2 separate regions of the Homo sapiens genome follow, and region 2 is linked to region 1. The links come from fine-mapping of genetic effects on gene expression. Tissue or cell type: whole blood. Region 1 holds a variant in brackets; the other region holds the start of a gene. All regions are shown on one strand. Distances are between the middles of the regions.

The links. PIP is the estimated chance that this variant, and not a neighbour inherited with it, causes the effect.
Region 2: LMNTD2-AS1 starts here. The variant in region 1 is fine-mapped to the expression of LMNTD2-AS1 in whole blood (TOPMed, PIP above 0.99).

What each region holds. Positions count from the first base shown.
Region 1 is chr11:502,318-510,317 of GRCh38, forward strand. RNH1 (ribonuclease/angiogenin inhibitor 1) reads right to left here and starts at 4,925. Exons shown (of 11, transcript NM_203387.3): 1 at 4,796-4,925; 2 at 2,507-2,679. It also overlaps a transcript of LRRC56 not described here. RefSeq lists an enhancer at 4,194-4,363 and a cis regulatory region at 4,279. The variant T/C (reference allele first, on the strand shown) is at 3,874.
Region 2 is chr11:555,454-563,453 of GRCh38, forward strand. It overlaps LMNTD2-AS1 (LMNTD2 antisense RNA 1), which reads left to right and starts at 3,809. Exons shown (of 2, transcript NR_147607.1): 1 at 3,809-4,023; 2 at 4,326-4,653. It overlaps LMNTD2 (lamin tail domain containing 2), which reads right to left and starts at 5,285. Exons shown (of 14, transcript NM_173573.3): 1 at 5,230-5,285; 2 at 3,403-3,526; 3 at 3,161-3,313; 4 at 2,708-2,795; 5 at 2,431-2,586; 6 at 2,119-2,187; 7 at 1,946-2,034; 8 at 1,382-1,644; 9 at 1,039-1,135; 10 at 739-922; 11 at 543-662; 12 at 281-477; 13 at 1-50. The coding sequence starts at 5,263. It overlaps RASSF7 (Ras association domain family member 7), which reads left to right and starts at 5,517. Exons shown (of 6, transcript NM_003475.4): 1 at 5,517-6,024; 2 at 6,309-6,439; 3 at 6,626-7,323; 4 at 7,736-7,864; 5 at 7,943-8,000. The coding sequence starts at 6,316. RefSeq lists enhancers at 1,222-2,058, 6,320-6,895.

The DNA of each region.
Region 1 (8,000 bases):
TCTTCAGCACCCTCCCCACCTTTGTCTCTGGAGCAGACATCAGGGGTGGGGCAGGGGGCAGGGACCAGCACCCACCCCCAGAAAGGCCACCATGGGCAGCAGAGCTTGGGTAATGCAGATGCCAGCCCATCTCCTGGCTATCACCACCCAGCCTCTGTGGGCACCTCCTCCTGCCCCACAGAGGGCGGGACAGCAGCAGCCCGGGAAGCCCCTGCCTCTCATTTGCTTGGGCAAGGACAGGGTAGGGTGGGGTGGTCTGTGAGCCTGGAGGCCCCAGCAGGGGAGCAAGGGGGTCTGTGGGCTTGACCTGTGTCTCACCCTCAGGACAGGCAGACTGTGCGGGCCAGGCAGGCTGCCCACAAAGCCAGAGACCTCCCAGGATGCCAGGATCCTGGACCCGGCCACAGTGTCCGAAGCAAGACAGAGCAGGGGGGCGGCCACTTGGGGTGTCAGCTTCCATGGCCCCCTTCTGGGGTTGGGGACTCTGCACCAGGCTACAGCACATCCCCTGCCCCACGGCACACTAGCCCAGAGGCTGGGCTACCAGGCAAGCTGGGTGGGTCAGCCTGGGATGGGCACAGCTGCTACACCCTGAAGCCTCCCCAGGCACAGGCCCTGAATATGGAAGGAGGTTCCTGAGGCCCTGAGAGCACAGCTCAGGTACCCGCCAGGGGCCTGGGGAAAGTGGTCAGGCAGAGACAGCCACCCCAAACCTTGGTTGGTGGATACATTCCCTGAGCACCTGCCAAGCACTGGCCTGGGGACTACAGCAGGGCAGGAACCTGGAGAGGAGGCTTGGATGGCCAGGAAGGCTCCCTGGAAGCAGCAGCACTGATGCCACAATGCGGGGAGGGGTGGGTGGGGTGGGGAGAGGGCTCTCATCCAGAAGCCCCAGAAAGTTGGCAGGATCCACTTGGGGAAATGATGCAACCCCAGCTGCCCTTCAGAAAGACGGCCAACAGGACCGCTTGAGAGGCTCCTGGTGCCCTGACACCCCCAGCTTCCTGAGTCTGTGTGCCTGGCACTCCTCTCCCCGGGGCTGCTTCAGAGGCGGCTGGTCCACTCTGCATGAGTGGAGGCAAGAGGCCCCTGGTACCAACTGGGAGGAAAGACGCAAGGCTGGGCTCGGGTCCACACGCCTGGGCGCCCGGCCTGCAAGGACAGTGGCAAAGGGTGGTGACATCCCACGGCCCCACATGGAGGAACTGAATCCAACCGACCCGAAGCACGTGAGCAAAACCGACCAGGGTGTGGTCACCCAAATTCTGACTCCAGAATCTAGTCATCAGGAGGCACTGTGGGCGGGAGGGCGGGTGGAAGGAGAGCCTCAGGGGGCTGCCCAGGGTGCACACGCTCCCCAAATCCAGCCTGACACTCCTGTGTCCTCTGCAGCCAGATGAAAGGTGGCCCCAGGGTGTCCTCCTCCTGGGAAAGCTTGGTGGGAGCTCAGGGTGGCCAGTGCTCCCGTGACCATCTGCAACTAGCGCTGCGGGAGTAGCCCCGTCCCTACCCCTCAGGCTTGGCCAGACCCTGTTGTATCCCAGAAAGGCCCTTCTGAATCTCTGTGGGTCACGGATCCCACTGAGGACCCCATGAAAATGCGGGAGTAAACGCCCTTCTCTGTGACTGGAGAAGTCCCTGGCTCCCTACACAGCCAAAGCTAAAAGCACATTCAGGAACCCACTACCACCAGCTGGCAGCCTGCTTTGGTTGAGGCAGGGATCTGAACAGAGGCCCTAACGGTCCCTTATCCGGAGACCAGACTTTCTCAACCTTACGGAGGGAGGTCTCCGCAGCACCCAAGGCCTGGGCCCCACCCTGGGGAGCCACATGGGAGGGGCCGTCTGGAGGCCAATTCAGGTCCTTATGTTCCGACGTGACGGGGGCGCGGGGCCACCCTCTAGGGAGACACGGGCCACGCTCAGGCGACGCGCAAAAGTTCCCGGTCCCTGGGACCCCCGCCCGCGCCCGCGTCGAGTCCCTCGAACCTGCTAGTTCTGGACACCCTGCTGCAGACTAAAGGGCTGGGAGGAAACCTCACAAAAACACGAAGGGGGTCTCCCCTGCCTCTCTGCCCCCGCCCGCGCCCGCTCCGCCCGGGACGCTCACCCGACGCCGCCGCCGCAGACCCAAGGCCAGAGCCGCTCCGCGTTCCTTCCGCCCAGGCGGGGGCGGGCGGAGCCTCCAGGCCGGGGCTGGCGGGGAGTCCACCCTGGGGGCCGCGCCCGCTAGTCGTCGCCCACTCGACCCTCTGGGCTCAGCCCCCGGGCCTCGTCCCAGCTACTACCCCAGCTTTCCCACTCCCCCCTGGGTCGGGGGTGAAGCCTGACGTCCGCATCCCGTTTCCCACTCTGGCCCCAACCAGCCTTTCCACCGTACAGCCGCCTTCCCCCAGACCATCCCTCCAGCTCTGGCAGCTCCCACCACCCTCGAGGGACCGGCCCCTGCCTCCTCCCACAAGCAGGCCGGATTCCAGGAATTGCCCAAACAATAAAATAAAGCAAACCTGAGACACCCCTTTTTGCTACCAGACTGGAGAAGGTGGAACAGGTTGACGATGATTTGTTGTAGCTGAGGCGAACGGGGCGAGGCTGTGAGGACGGGTTTTGGAGCGCCGCTCGGCCGTCCTCAAAACTTTGGACACACCCTCCGTTTCTGTCAGTCAAGAGTTCTTCATGCCTGAGCTCGGGAAGCATGTTCAAAATCTTTTTTTTTTTGTTTGGTCCCGCCTTTCTGGACCAAACCAATGGATATCTTAAATGTATTTCATTAATGCCTCATGTCTCTCTAAAACATGTAAAACCAAACTGCCCCAACCACCTTGGGCACATGTTCCCAGGATCCCCTGAGGGCTGTGTCACCGGCCGCGGTCACTCATATTCGATTCAGAATAAATCCCTTCAAATATTTTACATTTTAACTATTCTTATCGACAGTACATTTTTTAAAATAAGAATGGCCCTGAAAGATGTCCACCTCCTAATCTCCAAACCTGTGGTGTTACCTTAAGTGGCAAAAGGGACTTTGCAAATATTAAGAATATTGAGATGTGAAGGCTACCCTGGGGTGTCTGGGCGGCCGGCATATAATCATGAGAGTTCTTATGCAGAGACAGTAGGTTTTGAAGATGGAAGAAGGTGGCCTCTAGAAGTTGGAAGAGGAAAAGAAGCAGATTCTCCTTGGGAAACTCCAGAAGGAACTACCCTTGCCAACACCTTGATTTTAACCTCCTAAAACTCACTTCGGGCTTCTGAGCTCCAGGCCTATAAAACAGCCTGTGACAAATTCGTTATAGCAGGGATGAGAAAATAGCTCACTGCAGCCTCCTCTTCCAGGGCTCAAGTGCTCCTCCTCCCTCAGCGTCCCAAGTAGCTGGGACTACAAGCGTTCACTACCGCAACTGGCTAATTTTTTCTATCTTTTGTAGAGACGGGGGTCTCACTATTTTGGCCAAACTCAGTATGTTGGTCGCAAACTCCTGGGCTCAAGAGATCCGCCCGCCTCGGCCTCCCAAAGTGCTGGGATTACAGGCTGCAGCGCACCCAGCCTAATGTAACTTTTTTTTTTTTTTTTTTTTTTTGAGAAGGAGTTTCGCTCTTGTCAGCCGGCTGGAGTGCAGTGGCACGATCTCGGCTCACCGCAACCTCCGCCTCCTGAGTTCAAGCCATTCTCCTACCTCAACCTCCCAAGTAGCTGGGATTATAGGCGCCTGCCACCACGCCCGGCTAATTTTGTATTTTTAGTAGAGACGGGTTTTCACCATGTTGGCCAGGCTGTTCTCGAACTCCTGACCTCAGGTGATCCGCCTGCCTCTGACTGCCCGGCCCAGTGTAACTGTTAACGGCAACATCGTGTGCAGTCTCCGGCTTGCAT[T/C]CGGTTTAGTCAGCCAATCGCTAAGACGACACTTGAGACCGTTTTCAGATCTTTAGGCTTTCCACCATCCTAGAAGGGGGCCTGCCTGGTTCTAAGGCCCTTCTGAAACACTGCCAAACTGTCCTCGGGAAACGGTGCAGAAGTCCTCTGGTTTCCCCCAAGGCGCGTGGGCACCTTGGCTGGAACCTCGCCCAGTAACACGACGTGCCTGGGGCCCCTTCGTCATTTCCGCCAACCCCGGTGACAACCCTGACACCGGCCCCTAAGTGCCATTCCAGTTATGTTGCTCTCCTCCCCGCAGCCCCAGGCGGCAGCTTCGCGGCCCGGCGTCCGGTCCCCCGGTGGTCCCGGAGCGAAGCTCCGCAATGGAGAGCGGAGGACCCTCCCTCCCCGACCTCGCACGACCAAGACCGCCCACCTTTCCCCCAACGCCCGGCTGTGGGAGCCGTTCGAGTCTTCTCCGCCAGGGCGCTCCTTCCCGGGAGGCCGCTTCTTTGGGGGAATAAGGTCAAGGATTACGGGATTTGGGGAAGCAAGCTCGGCTGGGCCAGGATTGCTTGCGTAGCTCGCTGGAATCTAAGGCACTAGAGGGCTTGACGGCCACGTGAGGACGAACCACGCAGGCGCAGCCCCGCGCCCCGGGCAAGGACTTCCGGCAAGCCCCAAAGGGGAGCGTGCACCGCGATGACGTCCTCAAGGCGCGCCACGTCCGCCCGGCGGCGCAGCTGCCCAGCGCAACCTCGGCCCCGCCTCGATAGCCCCGGACCCCTGCCCCGCCCGACCCCGCCCCGCCACGGGAGCGCGCCACTCGCCCGCGCAGCAACGGCCTCAATAGCGCCAGGCCCGCGTCTACAAGAAGCCCGACCAAGGCCGGCGTGGGCGAGGCCTGGCTAGACGCTGACGCACCGCTGGAGCTACTGACCTCGGGACGACTGGCGGACGGTCGCGGGCCTGGAGACCCAGAGCGAGACGGCCTACTTCGTTCTCGAGCCAGCAGAACGGGTTGAACGTGTCGACAACCCCACCCGCCAGTCAGCGGCGCGGGCGTGTTCGAGCCGGCTCGTGGGCGTGGTCAGGTGCGTGGGCGGGGACTACTGGGCGGGGCTCGGCGCGGGGGCGGGGCCTGGCGGGAGTAGTCTCGGGGTCGGGGCGGGGCCCGGCGGGCGGGGCTCGGCTAAGCACAGTCTTGGCGCAGCGGCGGGGCCTGGTGGGGCGTGGCTCGGTGAGGGAGGTCTCGCTTGGGGGCGTGGTCTCCCCCAGTAGGCGGGGCTTGGTGCCGGGGGCGGGGTCTGGCGGGCGCGGGCGCGTGTGCGTGTTGTGGGCCTCGCACTGGCACGCAAGTCTCAGCAATTCCTGAGAATCCTCGGAGGAAGAGGCCGGGGCCCGGTGCGGCAGCGCCTTGGGGGCGGAATCGCAGGCGCGGGTCGGGCCTTGCTGGGGCGCGGGGCGCGGCCCCCGGAGAAAGCGGCCGCCTCGGGACAGGAGGGACCCGGGAGAAACCCCCCTGGGGCGGCTCCGCATGTCGGGGTCGCGACTCTAGGCGACCTTGGTAGAGGGGCTCGTTTGCGCCGAGCTCGCGACCCCCGAGGGAGCCACGGCCCCGTGAACCACGCTGCCCGTCCTGGCCACTGGCTGCCGCCTTTGTTTCGTGGGACCCCAGCCCGCAAGGCCTGCGGAGCCGCGGCCTCGTCCCGAGTGTTCTGAGCGCGGTCCGAGCTGCTCCTGCGTCCACTCTGCTGCCGACACCCGAGCGTCGCCTGGAGCCCTGGCACTGAGGGGCGCAGGCCGAGTTCCAGACCAGCCTGGGAAACGCAAAGCGACCCCACCTCCACAAAAGTGGGTTTTCTTTAAGTTTTTGACTAGTCCGCAATTCACAGAATTGACATTTTGGCAGATGAAGATTGCAAGTAAGGAAACTAACGGTATCTCAGATTTGTTCTTTAGCAATTTGCTAAACCTCTCCTCTGACTGCCTTTATTAGGTATTTGTTTTCGAGACAGGGTCTCACTCCACTGCTTAGGCTGTACTGCAGTGGCGCGATCCCAGCTCGCTGCAGCCTCCACCTCCCGGACTCCAGTGATCCTCCCGCCTCAGCCTCCCAAGTAGCTGGTACCACAGGCGCCAGCACGCCTGGCTAATTGTTGTATTTTATGTAGAGAAGAGGTCTCCCTGTGTTGCCCAGCCTGGTCTTGAATTGGGCTCAAGTGATCCTCCTGCTTCAGCCTCCCATATCGCTGGAATTACTGGCATAAGCCACTACACCCGGCCTGATCATCTTTAAAGAAGGTGGTTCTGGCCGGGCGTGGTGGCTCACACCTGTAACCCCAACACTTTGGGAGACCGAGAAGGGTGGATCACCTGAGGTCAGGAGTTCAAGACCAGCCTGGCCAACGTGGTGAAACCCCATCTCTACTAAAAATACAAAAATTAGCCAGGCATGGTGGTGGGCACCTGTAATTCCAGCTACTTGGGAGGCTGAGGCAGGAGAATCGCTTGAACACGGGAAGCAGAGGTTGCAGCGAGCCTAGACCACACCATTGCACTCCAGTTCGGGCAACAAGATGAAACTCTGGCTGGGCGCGGTGGCTCACACCTGTAATTCCAACACTTTGGGAGGCCAAGGCAGGCAGATCACCTGAGGTCAGGAGTTCAAGACCAGCCTGGCCAAGATGATGAAACCCCATCTCTACTAAAATTACAAAAACTTAGCCAGGCATGGTGGTGCATGCCTGTAATCCCAGCTACTCAGGAGGCTGAGGCAGGAGAACCACTTGAACCCAGGAGGCAGAGGTTGCAGTGAGCCAAGATCGTGCCACTGTACTCCAGCCTGGGCAACAAGAGCGAAACTCCATCTCAAAAAAGAAAAAAGAAACTCCGTCTCAAAAAGAAGGTGGTTCACACACACACACACACACCCCCAAGAAAGCTCAGGGCTGGAAGGCAGCCAACCTGGCTGTGACCCTCATCCTGCACACGTGAGCTTGGTGACCAGTAGCTGATTCTTTAACTCTCTAAGCTTTGGAGTCTGGATGTGAGGTTTAGAATTCATGACAAGAAGCTGGAAGGATGCCGCCAGTCTGACTCCTGGACTGGTTCTCTTGACATCTTTGCAAAAGCTGCTGAAATGTTCTGGTTTCATTTCATTCTTTTCTTTGCCATGATCTCTTAGATTTGTTCGTGGCAATTCTCATAAGAGTGAAGAAAATGTTTAAAATGGCTGTTGGGCTCCCTTTTGTGACACCTTGTGGGGAAGGTGCCCAGGTATGTATAGGTGCTGAGCGCACGGCCAGCATGGTGTCTGTGGCCGGGCCTCCCTCCTGGACAGTGCGGCCACAGCCCCTGAAAGGTATGTCTTCATTTTTATTTTATTTTATTGAGATGGAGTCTCGCTCTGTCGCCCAGGCTGGAGTGCAGTGGCGCGATCTCGGCTCACTGTAAGCTCCGCCTCCCAGGTTCAAGCCATTCTCCTGCCTCAGCCTCCCGAGTAGCTGGGACTACAGGCACCTGCCACCACGCCCGGCTAATTTTTTTTTTTTTTTTTTTTTTGTAATTTTAATAGAGACAGGGTTTCAGCGTGTTAGCCAGGATGGTCTCGAGCTCCTGACCTTGTGATTCGCCCGCCTCAACCTCCCAAAGTGCCTGGCCTTCATTTTTATTTTTGAACTTACCTGCCTCACCTCGTTATGTCTTTATCTTATTTTTAAACTTACTCAGTTCACCCACTGTGGAATTGGGAGTATATGGAAGTATTCCCACCCCCAGTTTTATATACCGCCCCAGAGCTGACCATTCTCGCTCATTTCCCCGGGTCCTGGCCGACTCGAGTGTGCCTTTCCTTCCGATCCTGCTCCACACAGATCTGAGGGATGCTGCCCTTTCCTTCTCCACCTGCCCCTCCCTCACATCCAGCCCCACCAGCCTACACGTTAGCTTAAATAGGGAGCTTTTACATTCCCCATGAAAGGGAATCCAGGGACAGGCTGAGGCAAGAGACCCCCAGTGTTCATGAGATGCCATCTAGAGAAAACACCGTGGTGCTGAAGGCCTAAGTCAGACCCCGGGGAGAGAGGCACCAGGGTGACTTTGGGTGGAGAGTCCTGTGCCTGTTCTACTTCTATAAATATACT
Region 2 (8,000 bases), 53 kb after region 1:
GCGCGTGGAAGAGCTTCCCCGAGCTCACTGGGGGCAGCAGGCCCCGCGTCCTGGTGGGGCGAGGGTCGTGAGGGCGGCGGCCGGCCCGGGAAAGGCGGCCCTAGAGGGCTCCGCGCCTGGGGCGGGGCAGGGGCCGCGGGGCGTACTGGAGGACCAGGGGGCGGCCGGGGCGGGGCCTGGGGAAGTAGGGGTCCGTCCTAGCGAGGGGATACGAGGGACCGTTTCTGCTGGGTCGGGGCCTGGGGAGGGAGGCCAGATCCCGGGGACCCGCGGTCCCCACCCTGGTCTCCGGCGACTGACCCGGGGCTCCCGCACCCGGCCTTTGCGCAGGGGTCGAGGTGGGCGCGGCGGCTTGCGGGTGTCGGCGCCGGGCCCGGCCTCAGGGAGCGGGAAGCGGTCGATGGACAAGTCGGTGCCGTCGGCGAAGACCCTCGGGGCCGGAGTCTCGCGGCGTGGGATCCGGTGCTCACTGAGGACCTGCGGGGCGCGTCGGTCACCCCCACACCCCAGCCCCGGCCGCCCCACCGGGGACCCGCACCGACCTCGCCCTTGGGGCTCAGGAGCAGCGTCGCGCAGCCGCGGATGGAGAGGAGGGGAACGGGCTCCCGGCTCGAGGACGCGCGCAGCGGCTTCTTGGCGCTGCGGGTCGCCTCGCCCCAGACCTGGAGGGGCGTGGAGCGGCGGGTGAGGGGCGGCCGGGCCGGGCCGTCGGGGCCGGGCTCCCGGGCCGGGGCGCACCGTGACGTGGTGCCGCGGGGCCAGCAGCGTGCCCGGCGGGAAGCGGTACAGGCGCTCCGGGAAGCCGCGCACCAGCTGCTTCAGCACCATGCCGCTCAGGTCGGCCGTGCTCTCCTGCGACGGGTTGAAGATGCGGACGAACTTCTCCCGGCAGCTCACAGCCACGATCTTCAGGCCTGTCGGGCTGGGAAGAGAGGAGACGCTGTGAGGAGATGCGGCCGGTCCACCCGCACAGCTGCGCGCCCCGCCCGGAAACCAGCTCCAGTCCGGCGCCGGAGGCTTGGGTCACTCGCCCCTTACCTCTGCAGGAGTTCCGGGCTCCAGTGGTCCGGGTCTGTGCAGGGCTGGGGCGACAGGACCGGCTCGCCGTGCCTGGGTGAGTGGGTTTTCTGGAGATCTAGAGAGAGCAGCGCTTTTGGGGAGGGGACCCTCGAATGGAGTCCCCACCGGATGTTCCCCGTGAGGTCAGAACAGGCCTGCAACGCCTGGCGGGGCAGGGAGCAGGGCCAGGGTCAGATGGGGCAGGAAAGGTGGCTGGACCTTGGGGGCTGGAGGGCCACCTCCAGGGCTCTGAGTGAGATCACAGCTCTGAGGGGGTGGAGGGTGGGTGAAGGGTAACCAGGGGAGACCCGCCCCACTGCACCTTCTGAGTCCCTGCTGTAGCTGCCGGCCTGCACCAGCGCTTGCTCGGAGGAAGCGCGGTGGTCCCGGGGCGGGTGCCCTATCACCTGCACGAAGGAAGGCAGGCCCGGCCGGCAGCTGCTGGAGTCGGAGTCAGCGCCCCCTGAGCTGCTGGTGTTCAGACAGGGCAGGGAGCCCCACTCCACGGTCTTGTGATGCCGCTCGGAATGCTTTCCAGAGGACTCTGGGCTCCCTGTGTCCAGCTGTGGCCAGGGCCGGGGCTGCCTGTGGACCACGCTCTGCTTGATGGCCACTCCAGCTCCAGACCCCAGCCCTGCCCCCGTCCAGCCTCACAAGGCAGTGCAGCAGGGAGCCCCTCTTGCCTCCCAGTACCCAGGCTCAGTTCATGGCAGGACAGTGATGGCTGCCTCAACCCCAACGCATTCTACAGATCAGAGAACGCGCATTGGAAGGTTTAAGAGACTTATCCAGGGACACTAAATGGTCCTTTAGTGTCCTGCGTCTTCACTTGCCAAGGTGAGCCCTCCCTTCTGGCCCCTGGGGAGTCCCTGCTCTGTGCAGTTACTTTTGCTTTGAGCTGGGCTCCATGTTGGTGAAGAGGTTGGGATACCGGCGGGCAACGCTGTTCCAATCCACGTCCTCCAGCCGAAAGCCCTGGCCAGGAAGCAAGAGGCACATGGTCCTCCCCTCCCGCAGGGCTCCAGATACCAGACCACACACGTGGGAGGCCTAGCTCACCTCCCCGGTGGGGGCCTGAATGTTTTCAGAGAGGTCGCTTGGGTCCATCAGAGTCTCTGCCGTCACTACCTGCAAGAGGGGACCGGAAGCCAGTGGGCAGGGGCTGGGTGCTCCCCTACAGCACCTCTCCTCTTTGACCTCACCTGTGCTTTGAGGCCTCCTGATTCCTCCCTGCTGGAGCCCAGAGTTCCAGAGGCACCTGAGCAGGGCAGGCTTCCAGGCAGGCCAGGGCGCCCCAGCAGAGGCACCCGACGAGATGGGGAGGGCTGGGGAGGGCAGCCTGGGGCAGGAGGGCTTGGGGGACAGGCTCACCTCCACACTGCCAGTCTGGGATCGTAGCATGCGGCCCACCCACGAGGAGCGGGCCAGCTGCAGGAGGCAGGACTTCTGCAAGTTCTGCAGCTCGGCCTCCATCTCCTGGAGCGTGCGGGTGGTCTGCAGCAGCCGCTCCTCCAGGTGCTCCTTCTCCTGCTCCGAGAGGGCCTGTGGTTGGTGGTGGGGGGGTGTCTTCTGCAGAAGGCCCCCAGGCCAGCCCCAGCCTGGCTCCCCAACACCAGGACCCTGCCCACTCCCTGTGCCCCTGCCTCACCCACTGGGCTCGCTCCTTCTGTTCCTTCAACTCCTGGATCAGCTTCTGGACCTGGTTCTGCAGGAGTTTCTCCTGACTGTGGGAGCTCCTGGAGGAGGGGTGACCTCAGCAGCCCCCACCCTGCTCAGGCAGGGGTTCCTAATGTCAGGTCAGTGGCGAAGGAGGGGAGAAGGAGGGGCTCCACTGCCACCTTGGCCCCAAGGGCACACAGTACAGCCCCGCTGGGGCTGGCCAGCCTCCGGCTGGTCTGGACAAGGGTCTAGCACCCATCCACATGCGCAGGGTTAGGGTGGAGGCTATAGCGTGTTAACTTAGGATCAGGGTGGAGGGTCAGCGCGGGCAAGGATGAGGGTAAGGATCTGCCTCAGCGGTTGGGGTTGGGGTCAGACAGAAACCAGGAGTCCGGGCGAGGACAGGGCGGGGTTGGGTTGGGCTGGGGACTGTGCTGCAGACCTCTTGGGCGGAAGCCCCGCCACCTCTTCCAGGATGTGGCAGAGCCGGGCGTCCTCGCCATTCTGGATGGCCCACCGCAAGGCCTGGATCTCCAGTTCTCGCTGTCTCCACAGCAGCCGCAGTGTGCGAGGGTCCAGGGACTCAAGAGCCAACCTGCAGCGGCAGCAGACCCTGCTGCTTACTCAGGCCGGCCCCTGGCCACCTGGCCCAGGAGGCTCACCAGTCCTCCCTCTCCTCCTTACTGCGGGTCGGCAGAGCAGACCACCGGTGCGGGGTGGGGCGTGGTGTCTGGCAGGCACGTGGGAGTCTCGGGGGCTGCAGGTGCGCCTGCTGGAGGTCCCAGGTGACCACTGACCGACTCTTGCTCTGTGGGGGACAGGAGAGCCTCTTCCTCGGTTTCTTCAACCTCCTGGCCAGACTTGGGGGCCATTCTCAATGTTCTTCGGGAGCTGGGAGGGGTGGGGGGCCCGTCTGCCGTGTGCGCCTCGTGTGGCCACACAGGTTGGAGCAGCCCAGGCGTCACCACTTACTCACAGAGCGTTGCTCTCTGAAGGGACCCACATGTGGGTGTCCACACCCGTGTGTTTCTGACCAGGCTGGCGCAGCAGGTCACCACCCGACATGTCCCTGGCGTGTACCCCTGCCACCCAGGTGCTGGCCCTTTGCCTGTGATGTGGTGTCCCTCTTTCTCTCTCTTGTCCCCCCAGCTCAGGGCCCTACCCCCAGCACTCACCTGAGGCCCGACCTCCAAGCAGGCCTGGGAGGGAAGGGCTGTATACCGTTGCCATGGATACCAGCACCCAGAAGGGGTGGGGCTGTTTGTTACCAGGAGCCTCCAGGGAGACCCCAGACCAGGCCCCTAGGTGAGTTCTGGGCCAGCCCAGCCTGGAGGAGGTGTGAGAGGCTGAGCCACTGCTCAGCTTAGCGGGGGGACCACTTAGTGACCAACACCCTGAGGGAGGCCCCAGCATCCCCTACCTAGCCTGGCAGCAGCAGCGGGATAAATAGGGGGGCACTGCTGCCTGTGAGCCAGCCCAGCATAGCCATGGGTGTGTGGGGGAAGCAGACAGGTAACAGTGACAAGCTGGGGACTGTGCTGAACGCTAACTGGCAATAGTACACTCCTGCCCACAGCCTGTTTTTAAATTAATAATTAATTCTTTAGAGACAGGGTCTTGCTCCGCTGTCCAGGCTGGAATGCTTCGGTGTGATGACAGCGCACGTTAACCTCGAATTCCTGGGCTCAGGTGATCCTCCCACTTCCGCCTCCTGACTTGCTGAAACTACAGGCACCCGCCTCCACCGCCAGGCCCAGCCCACAGCTCCTTTGACCTCAGTGACAGGCACTCACCTACCTGACCCCCAAACTGAAGCCTCACTTTTCCCAGCCGTGTCCACACCCTCTGGGCTACCCCATTACCATGACAAGTATTCCCTCTGCTCCAGGAGAAAAGCCAGGTCCCAGACCTGACCCATTAAAACCCAATCATTCCAGCTTTCACCCTTCATCTCTGCAACTTTCGGCTATGTAAGGGCTCCCTGGGGGAGCACAGGAGACAGGCGGGCAGGAGGCCCACGCCCACAACTCTTTCTGAGCTGGGCAGAACAATCAATGGCCCACACAGCTGACCGCGAGGCTGCGGGGCCCTGGGCGGGACAGTAGGGTAGGGGGTGAAGGAGCGGCTTCCAGCCAGCTTCACTGTGTGCATGGCCTGGCACTGGGTCCAAAAGGGGCAGGAAGGTGTCGGAGAAGAGCCTCAGCTAGAGTCCGGGCCTTCTGAGCGGGCACCTCCCGCACCAGGACTCTGCGCCCGCCAGCTCCGCAGGGCTCCACCTCCCTCGCCGGGACTGGTGACCCTGCGACCCCGCGACCCCTGCGCGTCCAGACTACTGCAGCTGCGGTAGGCCCCAAAGGCTGGCCCGGGAAGCGAGGGGAGGGGCTGGCCCCGCTGCCCCTGGACGCAGGCGGGGGTTGCGGGATCTCAAGCCAGAGACCCTTCCTGGGCGGGAACCCGCCACACTAGAAGGCTGCTGAGGAAGTCGGCCCAGGAGCGGGGCCAGACACCTACCCCGACGCCTGCCCGCGGGCCGCAGCCACCGCATTTCCGCGTTTTTCGCGGTAGGCGGGAGGTGGGGGCGGGGACTGCGGCTCGGCGCCCCCCTCCGACCCGCCCACACCTGTAGTCTCGGGGGGGGCGGGGCGCGGCGACGAGCCAATGGGTCGGGGAGGGGCGTGACAGAGGCAGCCAATGGGCGCGGGGAGGGGGCGGAACGCCCGCGCTGAGCAGCCAATAGGGGTGCTAGGGGCGGGGCGTGCGGACCGCGGGCCAATGGGGGCGCGGGGCCCGGGTGCGCCGCGGCGCTGGGGGCGGCAGGTTGCGGCGGCGCCGGAGCGGGTCTCCAGGCTGGCGAGCGCCCAGGTGAGCCGCGCCGGGTCCCCGGTACTTGGGAGCGCGGGGCGCGCCTCGAGCCGGCCGGACGCCGACTCCAACTGGGGAGAGTTTTCCGCGATGCCCGGACGGAGAGCGGGGGCGGCGCCGCACCTGCGCCCGCCCTGCGGAACGGGGACGCCCTGGCTCCCGCCAGGCTGGGGTCGCGGCGCGGGCTTCGGTGCCCGCGGCGGGGACCGGGACTTTCGGGGCGAGCGCAGCGATTAGGCGGCAGCGGCGGGGCTCCCCGGGCTGGCGGGGGCTGCTCAGACCCGGAGTCTGCTCCATCTGCAGGGTCGAGGTCTGGGTTGCGACCCCGAGCGCCTCTGCGGCCTGAGCAGGTCGGGGTGGGGCGTTCCCATGCCGGCGGCCGCGGGGCCTGGCGTGCGGGCGCCTCCGCGCCGCCCGGGGAGGGGGCAGTGTCCTCCGAGCCAGGTGAGGCGAGTAGGAAATGCTGGATCTGGTTAATGATTCGCCTTGTTCCGGGAGTGCGAGCGTGGCAAGAGGAAGCTGGTGAAGTGGGGGAGGATGCGTGCTCCGGAGGGCCGCCACCCCAGGAATGTGTGGCTGGCGGGTGGGGCTGGCACAGGAGGGTGGGGCCCGTGCGGAGGGGCGGCAGCCCAGCCGTTTCTAGGGCAGGCCAAGAGGATGAGGAGAGGAGGACCAGCCTGCGATAGGAGTAGGCAGGTCCTGACCCGGTGCCTGCGCCCTCCCCACAGGACAGGCATGTTGTTGGGACTGGCGGCCATGGAGCTGAAGGTGTGGGTGGATGGCATCCAGCGTGTGGTCTGTGGGGTCTCAGAGCAGACCACCTGCCAGGAAGTGGTCATCGCACTAGCCCAAGCAATAGGTGAGTCCTCTCGGGGTCAGGCAGGCCGGGCAGGTAGAGCTGAAGTGGGACCTGGTGGTCCAGCTCCATGGTCTCCCCCAAGGAGAGTGGGGCTGGTTGCTGATCCTTTTTGTTCTTCCCAACTCTTCAAGCCAGGTGGACAGAGAGTCGGGGGGACATAGGCTGACCTTCTCCTCTTCTTCCCAGGCCAGACTGGCCGCTTTGTGCTTGTGCAGCGGCTTCGGGAGAAGGAGCGGCAGTTGCTGCCACAAGAGTGTCCAGTGGGCGCCCAGGCCACCTGCGGACAGTTTGCCAGCGATGTCCAGTTTGTCCTGAGGCGCACAGGGCCCAGCCTAGCTGGGAGGCCCTCCTCAGACAGCTGTCCACCCCCGGAACGCTGCCTAATTCGTGCCAGCCTCCCTGTAAAGCCACGGGCTGCGCTGGGCTGTGAGCCCCGCAAAACACTGACCCCCGAGCCAGCCCCCAGCCTCTCACGCCCTGGGCCTGCGGCCCCTGTGACACCCACACCAGGCTGCTGCACAGACCTGCGGGGCCTGGAGCTCAGGGTGCAGAGGAATGCTGAGGAGCTGGGCCATGAGGCCTTCTGGGAGCAAGAGCTGCGCCGGGAGCAGGCCCGGGAGCGAGAGGGACAGGCACGCCTGCAGGCACTAAGTGCGGCCACTGCTGAGCATGCCGCCCGGCTGCAGGCCCTGGACGCTCAGGCCCGTGCCCTGGAGGCTGAGCTGCAGCTGGCAGCGGAGGCCCCTGGGCCCCCCTCACCTATGGCATCTGCCACTGAGCGCCTGCACCAGGACCTGGCTGTTCAGGAGCGGCAGAGTGCGGAGGTGCAGGGCAGCCTGGCTCTGGTGAGCCGGGCCCTGGAGGCAGCAGAGCGAGCCTTGCAGGTGAGCCCGGGGACCTGATCCCCTGTCACTCCCCCACCCCTGATATGGGCAGATACGGGGATCACAGGGTCCCACTCGGGAGGCAGGTGAGCCCGGGGACCTGATCCCCTGTCACTCCCCCACCCCTGACGTGGGCAGATATGGGGGTCACAGGGTCTGACTCGGGAGGCAGGTGAGCCCGCGGACCTGATCCCCTGTCACTCCCCCACCCCTGACGTGGGCAGATACGGGGGTCACAGGGTCCCACTCGGGAGGCAGGTGAGCCCGGGGACCTGATCCCCTGTCACTCCCCAACCCCTGACGTGGGCAGATATGGGGGTCACAGGGCCCGACCAGGGAAAGTGCTCCCTCCGGAGCACAAGGGCTGTGGAGCCCAGTGGCTGTGCCTCCTAAGGATCTCATGTGTCCCCAGGCTCAGGCTCAGGAGCTGGAGGAGCTGAACCGAGAGCTCCGTCAGTGCAACCTGCAGCAGTTCATCCAGCAGACCGGGGCTGCGCTGCCACCGCCCCCACGGCCTGACAGGGGCCCTCCTGGCACTCAGGTCGGAGTGGTTCTGGGGGGAGGCTGGGAGGTGAGGACCTGGCCCAGCCCCACTCCAAGCTGACTTCCCAACCCACAGGGCCCTCTGCCTCCAGCCAGAGAGGAGTCCCTCCTGGGCGCTCCCTCTGAGTCCCATG